Homo sapiens: one gene and its partners. The protein of the gene in region 4 purifies or fractionates together with the protein of the main gene of each other region. This does not show direct contact. Each region holds a gene or a part of one and is shown on either strand. Other genes may lie near its edges. The genes, in order: DPCD, GFPT2, PLEKHA6 and MYBPHL.

Evidence for each region.
Region 1: the proteins of MYBPHL (region 4) and DPCD purify together in Homo sapiens (affinity purification with mass spectrometry; one large-scale study listed by BioGRID and IntAct). This does not show direct contact.
Region 2: the proteins of MYBPHL (region 4) and GFPT2 purify together in Homo sapiens (affinity purification with mass spectrometry, with the first as the bait; one large-scale study listed by BioGRID). This does not show direct contact.
Region 3: the proteins of MYBPHL (region 4) and PLEKHA6 purify together in Homo sapiens (affinity purification with mass spectrometry; 2 studies listed by BioGRID and IntAct, with this or other methods). This does not show direct contact.

Annotation. Positions count from the first base shown.
Region 1 is NC_000010.11:101,605,751-101,610,635, forward strand, and holds the end of DPCD (protein DPCD), read left to right. Parts: intron 1-3,084; coding exon 3,085-3,187; intron 3,188-3,616; coding exon 3,617-3,721; 3' UTR 3,722-3,912; downstream 3,913-4,885. UniProt on the Homo sapiens protein: May play a role in the formation or function of ciliated cells.
Region 2 is NC_000005.10:180,328,283-180,334,246, forward strand, and holds part of GFPT2 (glutamine--fructose-6-phosphate aminotransferase [isomerizing] 2), read right to left. Parts: intron 3,272-5,964; coding exon 3,213-3,271; intron 2,553-3,212; coding exon 2,418-2,552; intron 57-2,417; coding exon 1-56. UniProt on the Homo sapiens protein: Controls the flux of glucose into the hexosamine pathway. Most likely involved in regulating the availability of precursors for N- and O-linked glycosylation of proteins.
Region 3 is NC_000001.11:204,217,596-204,222,848, reverse strand, and holds the end of PLEKHA6 (pleckstrin homology domain-containing family A member 6), read left to right. Parts: intron 1-69; coding exon of another isoform or gene 70-122; 3' UTR 123-3,996; downstream 3,997-5,253.
Region 4 is NC_000001.11:109,303,186-109,309,844, reverse strand, and holds the start of MYBPHL (myosin-binding protein H-like), read left to right. Parts: upstream 1-2,833; 5' UTR 2,834-2,853; coding exon 2,854-2,998; intron 2,999-6,659. UniProt on the Homo sapiens protein: Myosin-binding protein which plays a role in cardiac function. Seems to regulate conduction in the atria and ventricular conduction systems.

The DNA of each region.
Region 1 (4,885 bases), on a different chromosome or scaffold from region 4:
ACAAATGCAAATAATCTAGACTATGGCGGGCTATTACTTTGTGGTGAGAATGTGGAGACATGGAGGTGTCAGGAGATTTGGGGAATTCTCACTTTAATACGGGCTTCTCTGTTTACCAGCTTTGTGAGTTGGGCAAGATATCTAACTTTTCTGGGCCTCAGTTTCCTTTTGTTTAAAAGTGGATAATAGAAGTAACCAACCTGAGAGAGTTGTTTTGACAATTAAATGTGTTTAGAACCTGGCACAGAATAAGCTCTTAAAATGTCATCTTTCATTGTATGGCTGAAATAGAACATTGAAGGGAGGTGGGAATGGGGGAGAGCGGGGCATCTGCAGGAAGCCAGGGAACTATCCTGCTGTAAGGGTTCATCTTTTAGCAGAAACAAAACAAGGTCTGATCAGCAGGGATATGGCCTTGTTCCTTTTTTTGAGATTGAGTCTGGCTCTGTTGCCCAGGCTGGAGTGCAGTGGCACGATCTTGGCTCACTGCAACCTCCGCCCCCTGGGTTCAAGTGACTCTCCTGCCTCAGCCTCCCAAGTAGCTAGGACTACAGGTGCTGCTACCACGCCTGGCTAAGTTTTGTGCTTTTAGTAGAGACAGGGTTTCACCATGTTGGCCAGGCTGGTCTTGAACTCCTGGCCTCAAGTGATCTGCCTACCTCGGCCTCCCAAAATGCTGGGATTACAGAAGTGAGCCACTGCATCTGGAGGCCTTGTTTCTTCTTCATCCTTTTCTTTTAATTTTTTGTAGAGACAGGGTCTCGCTATGTTGCCCAGGCTGGTCTTGAACTCCTGGCCTCAAGTGATCCTCCCACCTCAGCCTCCCAAAGTGCTGGGATTACAGGCATGAGTCACCAGGCCCGCCCTCTTCTTCATCCTTAAATCCCCAGCTCACAGCTCAAGGTCTGGGACACAGTTGATGCCCAATAAATGTTTGCTGCCTACCTACAGCTGCCTGAGGCTGAACGTTATGACCCTTCCAGAAGCACAGTGGGTCTCTCTCTTGTCCAGGTGCTGGTGAGAAAGTCAAGTACAGTACCTATCATGGAAAAACCCTATGTCTGGGGGAATGGGTGTGAGAAGGGGGTGGGCTTCCCCAGGAGGAGAAAAGGCAGATGCTCCCTACTCCCTTGAGCCTATCGGGAGCTTCTAAGAAGTTGGTTAACCTCGACCAATAAACTAAATCTATTACAAGAGACTCAAAACCAAGCTGAGCCTCCACCTGCTCTGCCTCCATTCCTCTTGCCTGGTGGTAGGAGTAGTTCAAGGAAAGCAGGTGCAAGCTATGCACCTAAAGTTCCCTCTGATCCTGTCCTTGCTGTTGTGGCCAAGCCCTGGGATTCATTTTCCGGTCCCACTGCCCCAGCCTGGGGGAATGGTTCTGCTGGGCTGCTTCCCTCCTGGTTCTGCTTTTTGTGTATATTTGCAGGGAAGATGTTAACACTTCCTAACAAGTCTTTGTGTTCATCTAATCTCTGCTGTTTAACCTTTGACTCTCCCCTATTATCAGTGTCTGCCACCTTTGCTGGCCAGACCAAAGGCCCCAGGAAGAGCCCTCAGCCTGAGCTGGCTAGGAAGAGGATGAGGCAGGCATTCCATCCCCGGTTTGCAGGCAGATGGATCGCCTTTCCCTGGGGCAGAGCTTTGGAAAATAAAGCAACTTGCAATGCCATTAGGATCCCCCAGCCCCCACTCCTTTTGAACTGTCAGCCTTTAAGTAAACATTCTTTTCCTGCCATGGGTCCCAGTACCTTGGTGGGGAGTGGGGAACCTGGGAGGAGAGGGGCCCCGAGAGCCTCTGTTGAACGGAGGGATTTGGGCAGGGAGGACGGGGGCAGAAGTGCTGCATTGATGTCAACTCTCTGAGTCCCCAGGGCATAGGGGCTTTTGAAGTGGACTCAGGGTAGCTGTCACCACAAGGACCAGGCCCCTCTGAAGTACTAAAAGCCCCATCCTCCCCAGGCCTCTCACTTGAGTTTGTTTGTACCTGCCTGAGGTGTTTCCCTTCACAGCCCATACAACCTCTGCAGCAGAAAGTGATGCCTTGCCCAAGTGACAGGTCTAGCAGCCCCTGGCCAGAGCCTAAGCCACATTTCCACCAAGGAAAATGCCAAATTGGTGTACTGTTAGAGATGAGGAGGCCATTCATTGTGCTTTGGTGTAGTAAGGATCAGACCAAGGACAAGGAATCTTACTCTAATCTTGACTCCCATCCCTACCGACAACTGGCCGTGAAACAAGGCAAGATATTTCATCTCTCTGAGCCCGAGTTCCCTTTTAGGTAAGGGGGGTCAAATTTCCTGCAAAGTCTAGTTATACACATTACAGACTGGGTGTTGCCATCTGTTCTATTTTTTTTTTTAATTAAAAGGCATCATTAATCGCTGAACCGGCACCTGCAGATGATAAGGACCATGTGTGATATGTAAAAATGGAGGAGTAGGGACTTGGGGCCAGCCAAGTAGTCCAGAGGTCCAGCTTCCGTGATGAGTAACATGGTTCGTCCTCTCAAAGAGATTTCTCCTAGTAGATATACTTTTCCCTCTGGCCTACAAGGCCAGGCTAACAAGGCCTTGAAAGGCCCCAAAAGAGGAAGAGGTAGTTGAGGCCTTCAGTGGACCTCCCATGTAAATGGTAACAGTAGGGCCCCAGCTTTGGGAGACAGATCTGAATGTCCTTACTCTGTCCTTTGTTAGAACACGTCCCATTTTTCTGGTGTCTCCATGAGGCTTTGGGGGTAGAGGAGTCCCAAGCTGCTTGAGCTATTTGTGTGTTCCAGGCTTCTTCTGCCTGTCTTTGGGAGACCCAGCTCTGAGATGTGAGTCACTACAACCCCTGGTCTAATCACAGAATTATAACTAGGTTCTGCTCTTCTGCCACTGGACTGGACATAAGGCTTGCATTCTATGCTTTCCAGGGCCACTGAGCTCTGAAATACTGGTGTTCTAACTGGTTTCCCTTCTCCCTCTCTGCGTGTGTGGAAGGTGTGGAAGAACTAGGTAGAAGCTAGGCAGCAGAGGGCCTGACGCCTGGCTGTTGGGTCACCTTGCCGAGTGCCCCAATGGCCTCTCGGTGTCCCCACAGGTACTACAAGAAGTTCTCCATTCCTGATCTAGATAGACACCAGCTACCTCTGGATGACGCCTTGCTGAGCTTTGCCCACGCCAACTGCACCCTGATCATCTCTGTAAGATTCACCCAGACTTCTTGGACACTGCATCAGGGAGAGTCTTCCTCTTTCCCTGCCCACTTCCCATCCCATAAGAGTCCTCAGTTCTAGCCCCAAGCCCTAGGGTATGCTTGTGGGAGAATAGGCATCTCTAATTCAGCATGGGGGAGAGCAGGGAGGGGGCTCAGGAAGGAGCCTGACCATATAATTCACAGCTAGAAGAGGGTAGAGGGTGAAAGGGAAGCGGTGGAAATTGCTGAACTTGGGTTCTTCTGGTCCAAGGTCTGCTCCTACTCAGGCACATGACCTTGAGCAAATCATTCAATCCTACAGGCCTCAATTTTCTCGTGCAAATAAGGGGATCAGAAGGAGAAGGGGCCCCAAGTGTGTGTGGAAGGAGATGGGACAGTGACTGAATTATTTTCTTATTCCTGGCTGCATCCACAGTACCAGAAGCCAAAGGAGGTTGTGGTGGCCGAGTCTGAGCTACAGAAGGAACTAAAGAAGGTGAAGACAGCCCACAGCAACGATGGGGACTGCAAGACCCAGTAGTTGGCCCCTGAGCCTTATACCTCCACCACAGGGGGTGCCGTGAGACTTCAAGGCTTGGCCCTTCTTGACCACGGCAGCCTCCTGTCTTCTAGGAGCTATCAAGGGTCTCTAAGAACTGGGCATGGGGCACTCCTAGCCAGTGAGTCATGGTCATATTTCCTGAGTAAAGTCATTCTGAGTTACTTACTGCACAGGGACTGCCCTCTTGTTCCCCTCTGTATGCTGCCTGGCCCCAGACCCCACTGGCCTCCCTCGGGAGGGTGTGATGACATTCCTTTCTCTATCCCGGAGACCTACAACATAAAGCTTTCCACAAAAAGGGAGAATAGGGTGGGAGCACATGGCCCTAGCAGGGCAGGGCTGGCCTTTCCCTGCAACCTGTTTACACAAACTCAGAGGAAGACCAGGCTGGAGGGACCCTGTGCTACCGTAGCTTGCAGAAGTGGCTCAGAGGAAACTCCTGAAGATGTGTGGGCAAGGGAAAAGTTTTAAAAATGCAGAAACCGGCCAGGCGCAGTGGCTCACGTCTTAATCCCAGCACTTTGGGAGGACGAGACGGGCGGCTCACCTGAGGTCAATAGTTCAAGACCAGCCTGGCCAACATGGTGAAACCCTGTCTCTACTAAAAACACAAAAATTAGCCGGCCATGGTGGCGCATGCCTGTAATTCCAGCTACTCGGGAGGCTGAGGCAGGAGAATCGCTTCAACCTGGGAGGCGGAGGTTGCAGTGAGCCAAGATCATGCCACTGCACTCTAGCTTGGGCAACAGAGCAAGACTCCGTCTCAAAACAAAACAAAACAAAAAAACAAAAACAAAAAACAAAACAGAAACCTTGGAAGTAGAACACAGGATGTTAAGGCATTGTGGGTAAAAAGCCAGAATCAGGGTCATAATTTTGCCAAGGGTGTGTGTTGGGGTAGGGGTCACCACAGGCAACAACTGAGCTTCCAGCAGCCTGTACCCTTTCCACAGTCCCCTCTCCAAACCCACAGGTGACCCTCCATACCCCAAAGGGTAAGGGATAGGTCATCAATGGGAACTCTTCCTGAAAAAAAGAAACCTTTGTTCTTTGGGACACAGAGCCATGAGGCTGGTCTTGTCGTTTCAGCAGCACATACAACCCTGAGCTTGGGTCTGCTGTTCCCTTCTCCTGGAGCCTGCT
Region 2 (5,964 bases), on a different chromosome or scaffold from region 4:
GCAACGGCTTCTCCTGGGTAGTGGACACTCTTGAAAACCAGCGCGAATGCACCTTCCTGAAAACACACAAACAGTGAGGGTCAACGCGTTCCAGCAGCCGCTGCTGCAGCCTGGCCACAGCCCAGGTGCGTCTCCCTGGGCCCCTCCTGATGGCGGGAGGTCCTGGGGTCCCTCGGGGAGCTGAGTGCAGAACAGCGCATCCGGGGTGACATCACGAGGGAAAGCAAAACAGACGGTGCCACGGGAAGTACCACAAACCAGAACATGTGAATTCCACGGTGAGCGATGTGCGGCTTGCCCAGGCCCACAGGGAGCCCGGCAGGGGTGCCAGCTGGGTAGACGGGGCAGTGAGAGTCACAGGAAATGATAGCTGGGACCAGGCTTCCCTGCCCTGCTCAGGGACAGCACCTACTCAGCAAGCCCCTGTGAAGTGCACTTTAGCTCAACACACGGTAGGGCCTGGGTTCAAATCCTGGCTCCACCCCTGCACTGGGCTCTCCCTTTAGCCTTCTTGGCGCCTCGTTCTCCTCATCGGTGAAGGAAGTGAGAACAGCGCCACCTGGCGGGGCTTCCGTGACGATGATAAGCTAATGCACTGAGCCTGGCATCCGGAGACCCAAGAGAAGCACAGGTTGTCATGACCGTTACTGCTATTATCCTTTCCATGGATACGACTGCCACCTGCCCTCTGGGCCTCAGCTGGTTGGTTTGTGCAAAGCCAGAACTAGAATCCAGCTCTCCTAACACAAGAGGCCAGATGGTTTTTTGACTTAAATTCTTGGTGTAAATTCTTCCCCCACGTCCTGACCATCCTGTACTAACTTACCGCAACCCTAGCAGAGCTCAGTTATATATAACCAGCTGCAAATCTGAATTTCCACAAGAAATCCTCCAAGTGTGGAAGCCACGGGCAGCCCCAGGCCCCGGGTGGTCAGCGTGTCGGGTCCAGGTTGCCAACTCAGCTACAGGGCCAGGAACCTGAGTCACCGTCCCCAGGCCTCATTGGGGCTTTCAAACTGCCCCAAACCAGGGGGCTTCAGGCAGACCCTGGTGCTTTTGTCAACAATAAAATAGGACTGAATGGAAAAACACTGCACGTTCTCTGCCAAAAAGAGCCCGGTACTGTCCCAGGTAGGAAAAGTCTTAAGTTTAAAAGTGTCATTATGAGAGAGGTATTTCTGAAATTTCAAAATAAAAATGGAAAAGAAGAAACAGCATGCTGTAATACCTAATTGGCTCACTGTACCTTATCCAGCACATTAAATGTGGGATAGGCTGTTTTTTATAAACACGTCCTCTAAATGATGGACCTCCAAAAACGGGAGTTAGAGGACAAAAAGGCTTCAACAGTAGACTTACTTTTTAAATCAGACTCTGAAAACACCTGCTCAAGAATGATGTATTTTACACTACAGGATGGTGCCTGCCAGATGTTCTGGACTCTGGGCCAGTGTCCAGGCTGCCACAGCCCTGGGGGAGCTACTGGGTGGCACTGCTGTCTGACAGGATGGGCTCTGAGAGGCCCGGACCCCTCTCGTCCTCCCGCACCCTGCATGGGCCTGTGTCTGCTCCACCTCCTCCTCAGTGTAGGGGCCTCCCCTTGGACAATACGCCCAGTGTGTGCTCCCTTCTCAGGGACTTCTTCTCCCTGGGCCCTGTCCTCTGGGATGTCCCCAATCTCTCTCCCTCTCTCCCTCTTTTGGGCCATTCCGTTCCACATACAGACATGCTGTGATATCACCTATCACAAAAACAGGCCAGGCACAGTGGCTCACGCCTGTAAATCCCAGCATTTTGGGAGGCCAAGGCAGGTGGATCACTTAAAGTCAGGAGTTCGAGACCAGCCTGGTCAACATAGTGAAACCCTGTCTCTACTAAAAGTACAAAAATTAGCCAGGTGTGGTGGTGCGTGCCTGTAGTCTCAGCTAACTCAGGAGGCTGAGGCAGGAGGACTGCCTGAACCTGGGAGGTGGAGGTTGCAGTGAGCCAAGATCACACCACTGCACTCCAGCCTGTGCAACAGAGTGAGACTCTGTCTCAAAAAAGAAAAACCTAGAAACACATCCTCGCTTGGTACCACAACTCTCTCTGCACACCACCACCAAGCTCACGTGTGCATCATAAAAAGCCACGGACTCTAATGCCAGTCACAATTTCAGAAGTGTCACGATGAAGCAGGGCACTTTCTATTTGATGTTGACTACCCAAACCACAGAACGTCTTCCAGTTCTACAAGAGTGTAACATCTTAAGGCCAGGCTCTGCAGATGGGCTGTCTTTTATCCCCAGGACTCTGTGCAAGTTTGTCTAACAAGGGCTTATAAAAAATGAAGGATTCCTTGGCACTTGCTGCTTGAAAAAAATGTTTTTAATGAAAGAATGAAGGAATGAGTTAGACAGATGGGATTTGTAACTCACCAACTGCTGAATGACTCTCTCGACCAACGTTGAAAACGTAATGTCCTCAGTTTCTCTGTTGTCGAACACATATTTAATCAGCTTGGCGATGGTCTCTGTATCTGTTTCTGACTCAAACTCGTAGCCTTTGCTTTCCTGGAATATGCAGTCGGCACAGTGTGAGAGATTGGTCATTGCACAATGCCTGCCTGGCCAACTCCCTCTCCTCCCTGGTGATCTGCCCTTGGAGTGACTTAAGTCAAGAACAGGGAAAACCGGGAAGGGGGGAAAAATGTTTGCCAGCATCACAGCCAAATACCTCTGAGTCACTCCCGGAGGCCCTGAGATCATCCCACCTCAGAAGCTCACCCTTGCCACTAATCTGGACATTGCAAAATAACAGCAGTCAAAATGATAAAATACGTTGAGTCAAACCCACCCACATCCCAACTAACACCACAGAGCCTTTCAAACTTCAGACAGTCACTGTCTGACTTTCCGTCCCAACTCCGCCGGTATACGAGTCGCTGTGTTATATAATGCAGACAGTTTAATAAAACGAAGCTCCTGTTATTTTGATTCTGGGAATCTGCAGTGGCCCTTGAGATAAACACTAATGCCCTGTTATCTCCTCAAACGAGATCTGCAGGGCCTGGCTCAGCCAAGGCAGAGGTTTCTTCTCAACACGGTGACGTGGCTGAGTGTGGGTCTCACTCAGTTCCCACACTGGTTTCCGCAAGGAAATGAGCTGGCTGGAAAGTTTCTGGGGAGACCAATCCCACCGGACTGAGACATCACCTAGGGGAAGCATCTTACCAGAAATTTCCTCAGATCTTTGTAATTTGTGATGATCCCATTGTGGATGACAACAAATTCTGAAAGAAAAGTTAAGAGAGAAATGCTATTGAGAAGGAGGTTCATGTCAGATGTGAAGAGAGATGATTTCAAGGCTTGAGAACTCTCTGCAAACTCCAGGCCTCAAGACTTCTGTTAAGCACACTTTGTTTACAGTGATTAGCACAGATGTTTACGGCAGCAACTACAGTGGAACCAGGGATTAGCACCAGGGATGTCTAGGGCAGCGGCTACTACAATGGGATCCGGAGGAAATACACATCCCTCTTTCAGTGACCAGCAGCCACCAGCCTGACCGTGCAGAGAGCTCTCCCCTGTGCGCTATTATAGTATCAAACAGGCTTTGGGGTTCATGTCCCACGGGGATGATGAGCCCTTCGTTCCAGAAGTGATTCCAGGCACTCTCAACTGGCTTTAGGCACAAAGAGGTCGCAAAGAACAGTCCAGCACCGTGCTGTGTTTGACCCACACTGTGTTGTAAAAATATTTGAGTTTTTAAAATTCTGAGTGTTCACTTTAAAATCCTGGTTTCCTTGGGGGAAAAATCCCAGAAGTTCTGGCATCCCCAGGCTCAGCCACATTCCTGCACAGCAGGATCTGCCAGCTGCAGCTTTTCCCACCTCCCCAGTTCCTGCCGCACAACCCAGCTCACGCGGGCGGCTTCCTGCACAGGTAGCACCCCGCTGATCCTGGCGGGGAGGTGGCGGGGGGGCGGGGGGAGCAGGGGGATGCGGGGGATGCGGTGAGGGATGTCTGCCTCCACCCCACTGCATTTTCTCAATGAATAGCCCGCATATGAGTGCCTTGAGGGAAAGATCCAAGGCCAGCCTGAGAATTTTTCTGGGCAAGTAGCTCCGTTTCCCTCTCCCCCTAGAGGACAGAAAGATTCCCTATTACCCTTGAGGTTCAATAATTCCACCAGGAGGTGTCTAGATGTGGGATACGCTTCATAAATATTGACTATTTTTTTCAAAGCATCACTGTGAAGTCTTATTTGTTTTTATTATTACCATTATTATTTTGAGACAGAATCTCACTCTGTTGCCCAGGCTGGAGTGCAGTGGCGTGACCTTGGCTCACCACGACTGCTGCCTCCCGGGTTCAAGCGATTCTCCTGCCTCAGCCTCCCAAGTAGCTGGAATTGCAGGTGCTCGCCACCACACCCGGCTAATTTTTGTATTTTTTTAGTAGAGACAGGGTTTCACCATGTTAGCCAGGCTGGTCTCGAACTCCTGACCTCAGGCGATCCACCCACCTTGGCCTCCCAAAGTGCTGGGATTATAGGCTTGAGCCACTGTGCCTGGTCTATTGACTATTTTTGATCCCTTCTTTGGATATCCAACTCAAGTTTTCCTTCAGTTCGGGAAAGATTTCTCCCACAGCATCTTTTGAAATCTTTTCCATTATTCTTTTTCTTTATTCTCACCATGATTTCCTCTATTTAAAAAAATTGTAGTGTTTGTTTTTGTGAGGTCACACCCAAAAATGGGAGGGCTTAAATAAGAAAAGCCCAGTTTCAACAGATGTGCTGACCACAGCTCAGCTTTATTTTTTATGTATTTATTTATTTATTTTTTACTGCTCTGTGCTCTGATCGCTTCTTGTGCACACCAGTTACCCATATGTTGGATCCATATTAACTGGCTCCACGTCCATCCCCTTCTCCATTTTTTTATATCTATGGTGATATTGTTTCTTTTTCTTTCTTTTTTTTTTTCTGAGATGGAGTCTCACTCTGTCGCCCAGGCTGGAGTGCAGTGGCGCGAGCTCGGCTCACTGCAAGCTCCGCCTCCCAGGTTCACGCCATTCTCCTGCCTCCGCCTCCCGAGTAGCTGGGACCACAGGCACCCGCCACCATGCCTGGCTAATTTTTTGTATTTTTAGTAGAGATGGGGTTTCACCGTGTTAGCCAGGATGGTCTCGATCTCCCGACCTCATGGTCCGCCCGCCTCGGCCTCCCAAAGTGCTGGGATTACAGGCGTGAGCCACCATGCCTGGCCGGTGATATTGTTTCTTTACATTATTCTCTTAATTCTGCTACACTTTCTTTCATCTCAGTCTATGATCCTATCATTAATTTGTTTTCTGGAATCCATGTTGTCTCTGCAGAATCTTTGTGTAATTTCCTTGTGTGGTATAGTTGCTGGGCGTTCAGACTTCCTTAAAAGCATGCTCTTCAGCTATCACTGCTGAGTGTCAAAGAAATTTTATAAATCTTTGCTTATTGTCCTGTTGTTTTCTTTTCAATTACTCATCCTGAGTCAGGGCTGGAGTGTCCAAGTTTGGGTGTGGGTGGGCCTCCTGGGAGCCTCCCTGCTTTGGGGACACAATGAGAATCATCATCTACACTGAAGTGGGGGATTTTCCAATGAGGTTCATTTTATCACTGGGAAGGGCAGGAGGCTGTGGCTAAAGTGGCAACATCTCAGGGCACATGGTCTGGGCGCAGTGTTTTCTCGGCCAGCACGACTGCCCCAGGGACCAGCTTCTGCACTTGACCTGGGCTCTGGCCAGATGTACATTCTAGGTCCTCAGCACCATGGGGTCTGCTGTCCTCCTCCTGGACATAGGGTGTGTGCCTCAGTCACGAAATGCCCTATGGTTCAGGGCATGAGCCAGACCCAAGGAAGAGGCCCTCGCAAAAACCTCACTCCCTCAAGACCCTGATCACTAGGATGCATGAGTAGCCCTGGCTCCTGTGCTACCACCAAGC
Region 3 (5,253 bases), about 95 Mb from region 4:
TGGGAAGGTTGGCTGGAGTCCTTGCTCCTCTGTGCAGCACTCTTCTCACTCCATTTCTTTTTTCTCCAGTGCAAGCCCTGGCTGAGGCCAATGCTGTGAAGCTCCACAGAGCCACATTCTGAAGCCGTCCTCTGCCCACCTGAGGTCCTGGCTCCCCACCCTGGCCCCCTGCCCCTGCACTCCCATGGGAATGCCGCAGGGAGCCAGGCTGGGGCCATGGGCTGCTGCCAGAGGACCGTGGATACCTCAGTGTCCACACACCCACCATGCCCAGCCCTGGAGCCATCACTACTCACACCGTGGTCCTGGGCCAGGGCCTGAGATGACAGTGGGGAGCACCATCCTCATTAATGTCCAAGTCACAGGGAGCCTCAGCCTTGCCCTGGCTGGGGTTGTGGTGACTCCAGTGGAACATTCCCTGATGGGGGACATGCCGTGGTGGAGAACACACCTGTGGCTATCTTATGTGAGGACTAGAGGTGAAGAGGAGATGGACACTGCCTCTGGAGCCAGCCTGACACCAAGGACAGCACTTGTCATCATCCCTATCCTCGTCAGCCCCACCCTACTGCCTCAGCTGGACCCAGGGCTTTGACACAAACCCAGTGCTTTGCTTATGGGTGCTCGCTGGGGTCCGGTGGAGACTGACCACCCTGCTTGAGCCAAAGACAAGGTGATGAGAGATGGGGAGAGGCCATTGGCTCCCAGAGGGAACAGTGCTGGCTGTGGCTAGAGAACAGCAGGTCTGTGCAGTGTCTGAGGGCAGGTTGGGAAGGGTAGCAGAGAGAGAGAGACAGAAAGAGAGAGAGAGAGAGAGAGAGAGAGAGATCCTCAGAGTGGAAGGAGGGGGAAGCAGCAGGACACATTGGCAAGTCAAGCAGGAAGGAGGGAGATGGAAAGGGGATATCAGATTGGTTTCCCCCGGTGGAGCCTTAGGTTAGTGCCCAGTGCAGTGCCAGACTGTCTCCTCTGCTCCTCCCACCTCATCCCTAGGAGGACCCACCAGTGGAGCACATGCAGCCTCAGTGGAGATGCTTGGTGTGGGGATCTGGGTGAAGGGGGTTGAGTAGCGACTGCCTGGGAGATGGCTGTTAGTAGGTCTGTGCCTGGTGTCTGCCTCGCCATCCTGGGGTAAGGGGCAGAGAGAAGGACTTGTCTTATGTAGGGTGTGGTCAGCCTTGGGGCCTTACCTACCCAGTTCCATGATATTTCTTGCCCTGTTCCCCCTGGAATGTGCAGTGGGCCAGCTGAGAGTACGCCTTGAGGAGGGGGGATGAGGCCTTAATCTGGGAGGCCTATCCCCCTATCCCAGGCATCCCAGACGAGGACTGGCTGAGGCTAGGCGCTCTCATGATCCACCTGCCCCGGGAGGGCAGCGGGGAAGACAGAGAAAAGCAAACGCATTCCTCCTCAGCTCCACCCACCTGGAGACGAATGTAGCCAGAGAGGAGGAAGGAGGGAAACTGAAGACACCGTGGCCCCTCGGCCTTCTCTCTGCTAGAGTTGCCGCTCAGAGGCTTCAGCCTGACTTCCAGCGGTCCCAAGAACACCTACTAATTCCTCTGCACTCCTTCATGGCTGGGACAGTTACTGGTTCATATGCAAGTAAAGATGACAATTTACTCAACAAATATTTATCGAGCACCTTTTATGTACCAGGCACTGTTGTAGGTGCTTAGGATATTCTCATGTTTCTGAGGGATTACAGCCTGGGAGGATTCCACCGATCTTCACTTCTAGCAGGTTTTTTAAACGTGACCCTTGGCTGTATTTCCCATCTTCACAGTTCAAGCACCCCAAACCTGCCCTTTCTCCCCTGCAGACTGGCAGGTGGGATTGGCTCCCAGGTCATTTCCTCTCTCTCTCTTTCTCCCAAGCCTTTCTCCCTCCACAGGAAACAGATTTTTCAGGGCCTTCCATGCCTGCCACTTTGTCCGTCTCTTTTTTTTTTTTTAAAGTAATATTTTTTAGAAATACATGTAAAATACCAAGAAATAATGTCTGCGCCTCTGCCACCTCTCTCTCATCTCTTATTTCATAAAGCTGGCTCTTTATGTTGCTTTACATGCCTTAATATATGTTTTATGGAGATTATACATATTATAGATCTATATATGTAATATATTTGTTTGGATGTCTGATCTTTTCCTACAGTTCCTGCCCAGGCCTGTTTTTCTCTCCCTTATTTTCCACATCATTCCTAGCATATCAAGACCATACCCCTTGCCTTTTTGATCCAAAGAAGGGGAGAGGAAAGACTTATTTTAAGACATCTATTTTATGCTTTTGTTTAAAAAAAGCAAATCTATTTTCAAATTGTGCAATGTCTGAATGGAATTGGCAAATGAGGTGAGGAGATGGGGTAACTGCCTTTAGGTCCCAACCCTGTGCCTGTCCCTCTGCCACAGTGGCTTCCTTCCATCCTATTCCCCAGTCACGAAAGGGCTGGTCCCCAGAGCTCACCCAGAAAGCATCTTGCCGGGGGCAGGGCATTCCCTCGGAAGTCCTGGCCTAAGGATTTTATTACACTGTCTGCTCCTGATGACCCTCTGCGGTTGTCAGGCGTGAATCCTCTGGAAGGAACTGTTTGCAGTTGTATGCACAAAGGAGACCCATGCAGGCATGCACCCCAGATGGGCTGCTAGACTACCCCTCTTCATCAGCCTGCTGGAAAGAGCAGACAGCGTAACAGCAGCCTATGCCAAACAGCACTAAGGATGTCAGTGTACGAGACGGTGCGAAGCCCAGAGGAGGCGGCTTGGGATCCTCTGGGCCATCCCTGGCCCTGTAGCACAGACACATACAAGTTCCTTGGACTTGTCACACTCCTTTTCACTTGATCCCTCTCTGGCCTGGGTCACATTTATGACATCCCCCCTCTGCAACCTTTCTCTCTGGGGGCTGTACCAAAGGCATGGTACCTCAGTCTGGTATCCAGACTGTGAAATCAGCCTCTGGGCCAAGGAGGGTCCTACAGACAAGGTGGCATCTCAACCTCACCCAAGAAACCCCCGGGACTTTACCCCAGCAGGCTGCCACTGGGGCACCGAACTAAGCCAGCTCAGCCTTCCAAGCTGCTTAGCCTTTGTCAACCATCAAAGTGGGGAAAGGGTCTCTGGCCTTGCAAGGATTTGGGCAGGATGGAAGTCTTTGTCTAGGTCTGAAATCAAGGGCTTGGGAATCTAGAGCAGAGCTCCTGGCCAGCGTTTGAAGCCTGGCCTCCCACCTGGGGCATTTACTGACACCCTGTCGCCAGCCTAGAACATCCTGCTCTGAATGAACAGAGCCCAGATGGGGGTCCAGAGCTAAGTGACCCACCTGGGGAAGCTCTGATTATTCATCCAGGGCCTTCTCAATGAGCACATTACCTCCATGATCAATAACCAAGAGGCTGCAGTCAAATACTGCTACTGTCACTTTGAAGATTTTCTAAGGGCACAAGTGGCACACTTGCTCTCCGGCCTTTGGGAGAGGCATGTTCTTGGGCAGGGCTGGCTACGGCAAGAGGGAACCAATTCCTTTCCCCTTTAGGCACCCTCTACCTGGCAGCTCTTAAAACTAAGAAAAAATATGATATACACACACATTATATATATATATATATATACACACACACACACACACACACGTATATCTATTTATGCACATATTGGGGCCAATTTGATTTGCTAGTATTAGACAATAAACTGTACAAGGAAATTTATTATCTCAGTGTCTTTATTTAGCATAAAAGTGGCCTTAGAAGAAGGGTGAAGGTTAGATAGATGGAATCTCTGTCAGGGGACAAACAGCTGTAGCATCCCCTTAGCATCTTTCTAGCCAATGAGCCCCCTCCCCAGGAGGAGGGATGGCCTGACTGAAACAGGTGAGAGTTTGCTTCCCCCTTTCAGCAGCATTCTTTTTAGATTTAGGTACTGAAGAATCCCAGTGAGTTCTGCATTTGTATCTTGCAAGTTTGTATAAACCCAATACAGGAAATAAAATGAATGGTTTGTATATGTGGTGTGTGTCTCCTACTCGGTGTCTGCCCTTGTGGTGCTTGTGGGGTTGTGGGGTTGGCAGCTTGTGGGGTTGGCAGGAAAGGGGAATGGGGGCTGGGAGGTAGGCTGGGTGTAAAACATGTGCTCCTTCCTCCCCTGTGCCTCAGCCTGCACTTTTTGGCCTCCATCCCCAGGAGCTGGGGAAGCGAGGGTATGCTACCAACACCAGCATCATCATTTCAGTTCAGGTGACCCCAGATCAGGGTTTGCCCCAAGGTTCTGTATAATGGCAGTATCAGATGCTTCAGGCCCTGGCACCTTCCCTTGGTTTGACTCATACAAAGGACAGGACAGCAGGAGAAGAGAATGAATTCCCAGCCTTTCTTGATTACTACACAATGCGCTATATTGCTGCTTTACAAGAAGTTGTATAATTTGGTGGGAGGTATGAGACCACCCCAGTTCTCATTCTGCCTCCATCCCTTTGGTTTATTTCTCTTGGCAGGTGTTTTGTGGTTATCAGGTATTGACACTCTGTGTGAAGGGCTTTACCAGTGCTTCTCAATTTGGAATCTTACTGTGGGGACCAAGAGTCAAGAAGCCTGGTAAATTTTGTGGGGTGGGTAGTGGAAGAGAAGAGGTGCGCCCGGGAGACTGGCAGGCTCAGCGGGGCTTCTGCATGTTGTCCGAGGGAGGGATGGCTCAAGAAAAAGCGAGAAGGAGAGATGAGAAAGCAAGCTTCCTCTAATTCCTGATCTTGCATCGGCTTGGCTTTCATGGCTGAAGCTGAATTCTGGACACCTGTTCCCATTTCTAAGGGCTAGTACGGGGGAGGTCATTTTTAAGATTCGACTCTATTTTGGATTTTGTCACATCCCCAGGATGATGTCCTTTGTGAACCCGGGAGAGTTGTGACCAGATGTAGGCTCTGGGGGAGGGCCTGCATCAGAGGCTGGGGTAGGGGGATGCATATTGGAGAACTCGTCACTTTCTGGGGGGCTGAGCCTTTATCTTCAGGCTCCATCTGAGCCAGAGCCAGTGGCAAGGGCTTGGGGAGGAGGTGGAATGTGAGACCACAGAGTACCACCGGGCATCACTGCATCCACCGACAAGGGCTGCCTCCTCCTCTCAAGAGATGATGCCAGCTGGTGCCTGCTCCATCCCCTACCAGATCAAGCCAGGTTGGGATTTGTAAAAAGGGGGTAGTAGCTGAGAAATGTAAATGAAAATGCAATAGCAGAATGTCCTTTAAGGAGCAGAGCTGTGTAACTGC
Region 4 (6,659 bases):
TCATTACTGCATGTGCCCTAAAAACCCAAGTTTTCTATTCCCTTAGGACAGAAAATTGCATGTGAGGTGGGATAATCGAGTTTCAGTGACCCACGTCAGTTACACATTAAAGCCAGACCCCATGATAAAATTCCACAAAATGGAAATAAAACTCAAATTTCTTTAGCATTGTGTAAATAAATCTGAATGTGTTTAACTTTGTACTGGTAATTTTCTGTATATTTGGAATATTTGGGTTAAAAATAAAACAGACTGGACTTTGTTACCTGACCTACTGAAATGACTAAGCTACAGTTTGTTGATATACTTTTTCCAGTTTTCTTGCTTCAGAATCAGACTCCAGCAACCAGAGAACAAGCCATTTAAAGAGCCAGGACTGTACATTTATAGCATGAAATGTATTCGGTCATCTATGAGGAAAACGTCTCACAAAAATGTGAGCCATAAATTACCTAATTTTCTTGTTCTTCATTTTCTTGCTCTTAGTGCTCATACAGATCTTCCTCCCGTGGGTGTGTATACGACCAGCTTTCTTGTTCTTCCTCCTAGAAAGTCTAGGCACCCACCCCACATACCTTCACAGGTTTCAGTTGCTACACTCTTCCTTCTGGACACAGCAACAGATAATTACTCCTTGAATTCTGTGTTCTTTTGAGCAGGTTTGACCCCTGGCGGCACTGAGAAGTTCAGCTTTGTAACTTCCCATCTGCTCCTCTTACATTTCTCTTGCTGTTCTTACGGGCCCTTTCTTGTCCCTTTCATTTAAGGACCTTTGGAGAGTTGCAGCCTTCCTCTCTTGCAAAGCATTTAAGAGAGGTTCCTGCCCACCCGTCTGGAACCGTTAGCCATCCTACCCTGCTAGCCTGGGGCAATATTCCATGTAATACTCCAGCACCTTGGTCTGAAGATGACAGGGCAAAGCCCTTGTTCCTGAGGCCCATCTGATGGGCGAGTTCCTACCCCAGGACATTATCTAAGATCGTTGTTTTATTTGAAGGAATTCTATCTAACATGGTATTCCAAGATTTCCTGCGCCAGAGTCACTAGGTTGGTTTTTTTAGGTGCAGATTTCTGGATAGCACCCCAGACCTATTGAATTAGACTTTCTGATGGGCAAACCTTAGGAACCTGCATCTTAAAGTTGATTCTTTACACCTTCGCTCCAACAAAGGGCTAAGACTCAGCCTGGGCCAATTTCCTCACCAAAAGATGGGTTACGTGTTGTGTAAAAGGGGGTGTATTTGGGGTCTCCTGGCTAGGAGACTGTCCACACTTACGGGGCCTTGGCTGGGTCAAGCAGGAAAAATAGTTCAGAAAGACCTTCAAGCTAGTTCTGATATGGCAAAAACCCAGTCTTCTGCCAACCAAATCAACCCCATAGGCCATCCAAGGCCCCAATAAACAGATTGTCCTGGGCCTTAGCTCCTATACCAGTTACAAAGAGGCTGAGCTTCTGTCACCCCAAGATAACACAGGCTCCTGGGATCTTACCAATTACCCCAAAATTGAAGGCAAAAATGAGTAAGAAGTCAGTCCATTTGTTCAACTGCACCCATTTTTTTTCCATGAAAAAAATACAGGGGTGAGTAGGGGGCTGTGGGAACCCTATACTTTCCACTCAGCTTTGCCGTGACTCTCAAACTGCTCTAAAATTAAAGCATTTTAAAATGCAGAGGGATGCTGGCTTCTGGAGATAAGAAGGTAGGAGTATGATAGGTGGCAGTGTCCATGGCATGTACAACACGTATAGAAAGATGGTTTGCTAAGTCTGGAAATCATGTAGGACCTGTAGTATGTGACTAGCACCTGCTGTGAGCTGGCCACTTTCCTATAGATTGTATCATTTTATCCTCAACACAATCATGGCATCATCCCTTGTTTCATAGACTGGGACTTGAGACTCCGAGTCGGCCATTTGCCCAGAGTCCCAGCTGGTGAGTGAGTGGTACAGCCAGAAGTCACACGCAGGTCTCTGAGCTCGCCTCCCTCCACCACTGCTGCCTCTCCCTTTATTTGTACTTCATCTAATAGGCAAGGCAGCCATTGACAGCTCTCAAAGGGGGAAGTGCTGGCCTGACCTAAAAATAGCTTACATTTATCAAGCACTTAGTCGGCTACACTCTGCTAAGCACTTTACAGAGATTACCTCTTTAATCCTCACAACGACCCTATGGTTATAATTATCTCCATTTTACAGATGAGGAAACAGACTGAAGAGAGACTGTGAGGTGTTGTGAGTCACACAGCTAGTTGGTGACAGAGCCCCAAGTGGCACCTGGGCAGCCAGTGCGAGTGCAGTCTCCACCTACCACTGCGCTGTGCCCGCTGCCCCCGGGGAGCGGGGGAGGATGGGACAGGCCCTGTAAAGGTCGAGTTGATAAGACTTTACAATTCATTGAATGTGGGAGCAGAGGGAGAAAGAGCAGTTCAGGCGTTGCTGTGAGTCAGCTAATCCTGGGCCCCTTCTTTGGGACCTGAATGCCCCACGGGATGAACTGGAGGTCAGGAGCAGAGATGTCACTCAACCCTCCCTACAGAAATTAGAGGTCCCTTTTGGATGGTGTGTTCAAGCTCTCCCTCCCTGGTGCTGTGGGGGGTGTCATCTCTCTCCCGAGATAACAGGGACACCTCAGTCCTCCTGGGGCTATTCTGGGCTGCTGTCTGATCCTCCTCTCTCCCCCAACCCCTACTTCAGCCTTTCTGCTGGGCGTAGCTGAGTGGGGAGGGCCAGCCCAGTTACGTAACCCTGTGGCTGGGACCCGGGAGGCCAGCCTGGGAGCAGGTGCTCAGCCCCTCCCTCATCACCAGCAGTGAAAATCTAGAGCTGGAGCTCAGCCTCTGGGAAGGCCCAGCATGGAGGCAGCCACAGCTCCGGAGGTGGCCGCAGGATCCAAGCTGAAGGTGAAAGAAGCCAGCCCAGCGGATGCTGAACCACCCCAGGCTTCACCTGGACAGGGGGCTGGCAGCCCCACTCCCCAGCTCCTGCCCCCTATAGAAGGTGACCCATGGCAGGTGGGGAGGGTGGGGAGGCCGGGTGGTGGGAGTTGGGGAAGACATCGCCACCTTCCTGAACGGCGCCTCAGGTTTTCTGCAGAGCTAAAGACTCTATAGGATTGGTGATTAGGCTGGAGATCATTCGTGAGAGCCCCCATCCCCTGTCCTTGATGGAGTCTAACTTGCTGCTCAAATGTCCCTGCTAAGTTTTTGTGTTTTAGCTGAGAAGTCAGTGATGGTGTTGGTGGCACTTTACAGTGACTAAAAATGATCTGTTTATATTTTTACCTTTTAAAAAATTGTCATAGGGACTGGGAAGACCTGATATACTAATGGCCAGTCAGGAAGGGACTGAGGGGTAAGAGATAGTGACTGTCTGCTGAAGGAACAGGGAAATAAAATGCTATGGCAATGGGGAGGCTAAGAGTGGGGCAGCACAGTGACACTCGGCCTCCTGCTGGGCAGTACCACGGGGTCAGGACCTCCTCCAATCCCCCACTGCTCCCATAGGAGATCCTGACCCCTCAGAGTCTGAGCTCCACGGAAGTGGAGCTCTCCTGGGAGAAGCATTCAATTTCCCCTTCACGATGGTCTCTGTGTGCCTCTCAGCAAAGAGGCGTTCCCAAGTGAGGAATTCCAACCCCGAGCTTCCTGCCGCCCATCCCTGAATGCCCTGGCTGAGGCCTCTGTAGCTAACCACTTCGTGGCGCTCACCTGAAAGTCTTAAGAGGATGAAAAGACCACAATCAAGAAACACGTGGACTCCTAGGGCAGGAAGAGGCAGGGGAAAAGATATACTAGACTTGGAGGCAAAGCTCTAGGCTCAATTCCTAGTGCCGCCTCTAACAGCCCTGTGACCTTGGACAAGTCACTGGACTGCTCAGTTTCCATTTTCACTCTGTAAAATGGTGATTAATAACATCTACCTATCAGGGTAGTTGAAAGGATTGCTGAGATGATCCAGGGTGCCTTGGAAGAGGCCAAACTAAGATGTAAATAAATGATCAAATATTTCCAAGTGAGAGGTGAAGGCTGCGTTCTACCTCCATAGGGTTGTGCAGCAGACTCTGTCTGCCTCTTATCCTCATGGGAGAGGCCAGGTTTCCAGAAACTATTTGAATGTCAAGGGCAGAGAGCTGGCCAAGTTTGTCCCGTTGAAGATGAAGGGAGCAAAAGTTAGTGTAAATATATTAAGCTGGGGTGATGGAGGCAGAAAACCAGTTTCTTCCCTTAAAAGGCCCAGAGAATAAGTGACAGGCAGCAGGAGAATGAGAGCCAGGACTGCTGACGCCTCAGCTCTCTCTACTGGTCTTCCCAAAAGCACAAGGGAGAGTGCTCATCTCCCCCATGCTTCTCCCCTCTGGCTGCAGCCAGCTCCTGACAGCCCCCAGTCACGGGCCCGCAAATGCAGCCCAAAGCCTCTCGTGTGCAGCAGCTCTGTACACTGCAGGCCTCAGGGCCACTAGCACCCAGTGGCTCAACCCAGTGGTATCCCAGAAGTCACTGGCAATAAGAACACCTTTGAATACTTTGCAAAATATATGTGCATCTGTTAACTACTTGGAACAAAGAAGTCATGAGTTCAAATCTTAGCTCTGTTCTGTGGCCCTAGGCAAGTCAATCCACTCCCATTTTCTCATCTGTAAATTGAGGAGTTGAACCAAATCAGGGTCTTAACCTTTTGGTGGATATGGACCCCTAGGAAAATCTAATGCCAGCTGTGGACTCTTGCCCCTGGAAAAATACACAAAAAAGTTCAGAGAGCCAACAGAGCCCCAAACCCCCACCAAAGATCCTTCAGGGTGCAATGCATGGGCCTGGACTAGATGACCCCTAAGCCCCCTGAGAGCTCCAAAGCCTTTCTTCCTCCTAACTCCTCTTCCTTACAGAGAGCTCTGGGACTGAGTATCACAGGAAGCATGTGAAAACATGGGAACTAGAGCAGGCATCAGAAATAGAAATTAATTTGCAAGATCAAAACCAACTGCAAATGGCCAACAATGAGCTTTTAGTTTGGCAAGCCTGCTACATGGCTAAATAAGCAGGAGTAGGTGGCCAGCATTGGTAAACAGTTCTATGTCTGTCCTCAGCACTACACTGAGTACTGTGTCCTGGAGACAAAGCTTGGCAGGGGCCAGAGAAGAGCTTCCAAAACAGGGAGAGGCTGGGGAACAAGCTGCATCCCTCCCATGGACAATGTGACACTCGGCCTCCTGCTGGGCAGTACCACGGGGTCAGGACCTCCTCCAATCCCCCACTGCTCCCATAGGAGATCCTGACCCCTCAGAGTCTGAGCTCCACGGAAGTGGAGCTCTCCTGGAAGAAGCATTCAATTTCCCCTTCACGATGGTCTCTGTGTGCCTCTCAGCAAAGAGGCGTTCCCTGGGACCCTGAGGTGGAGGAGAAAGAGCCCATCTGCTGACTTCAGCATCATCGCTCCAACTGACTCTGTGTTCTCTTTCAATCTGAACTGTTCTGTGTCTTCCAGGCATGGGAAACTGAATCTCATGCCTAGGAGTGACCTTTCTTCCCTCCTTCCTTCCGTCCTTCCTTTCCTCCTCCTTCCTTCCACAAATATTTAGGTTGTGCCTATGATGTGCCAGGCGCTCTTCTAGGTGCCAGAATTACAGAAATGAACAAAATAGGTAAAAATAACTGCCCTCATGGAAGTTAGATTCTAGTGGAGGGAGCTAGACAATAAATAAACAAGTAAAGTATCTAATATGTCAGATGGTGAGAAATGCTGTGCCAAAACTAATGCAGGGACGGGGATAGAACGTGCTTCGGGTAGGAAGCATGCAGGCTTCCTGCTTCAAATGGAATATTCAGTGAGGGTCTCACTAATAAGGTGACATTTGAGCAGCAACTTAAAGGATGTGAGAAAGCAATGCATGCAGATATTTGGGGGAATATTTTCCACACAGAGAGAACAACTGCAAGGACCCTGAGGCAGGAGTGTGCTTTATGGGTTGGGGCCATTGTGGCTGTAGCACAGGGAGGGAGACAGTGGCAGTATTTCAGTCTGAGAGGTAGCACGGCCGCTGTGAAGACTTTGGTTTGTCTACGAGACAGCCAGCCAGCCAGTGCAGGGACTGGGAGTAAGGACTGACAGGACCAAGTGTAGATTTTAAGGATTTTTCCAGCTGGCCATGTTAAGAATAGACTGTAGGTGGGCCTTAGACACTAGCAAGATCGACAACTGGGAATGAGAATGAGGGAGAAGGTAGGGAGGTTTTAGAAGAGAAAGGTGTGCGATAGTCACCCAGGACAATGGGAGACCGAGTGAACTTGGGAAGTCTAGTAGAATTGCCAGAGTTCACTTGGAGGTGGTGGTCACTATTAATGGCCCTCAAGTTAAACTCCATATAATTTTGTATTTTCCCCCAGTCCTGTTACTCTGTGCAGATACAGCCACTGAGTGGGTGGGAAGTTTATTTAACAAGGGTTAGGTATTGCCAAGAGAGTGCAATGAAGTCAAAGAGGACTCAGGGATTTGAGTGAGTGCAAGAGAGAGAGTATAATAATGACCGTGCAATCTAAGTTGGGTGGTGAAGAAAGTGCTAACATGAAAGGGGTGCTAGGTAGTGAGAGGGTGGTAGGACAATGGATCACAGATCTCAGTGGTGCCAAAGAATTGCTGGTGTTGGAGCACTGGAGGAAGTGAG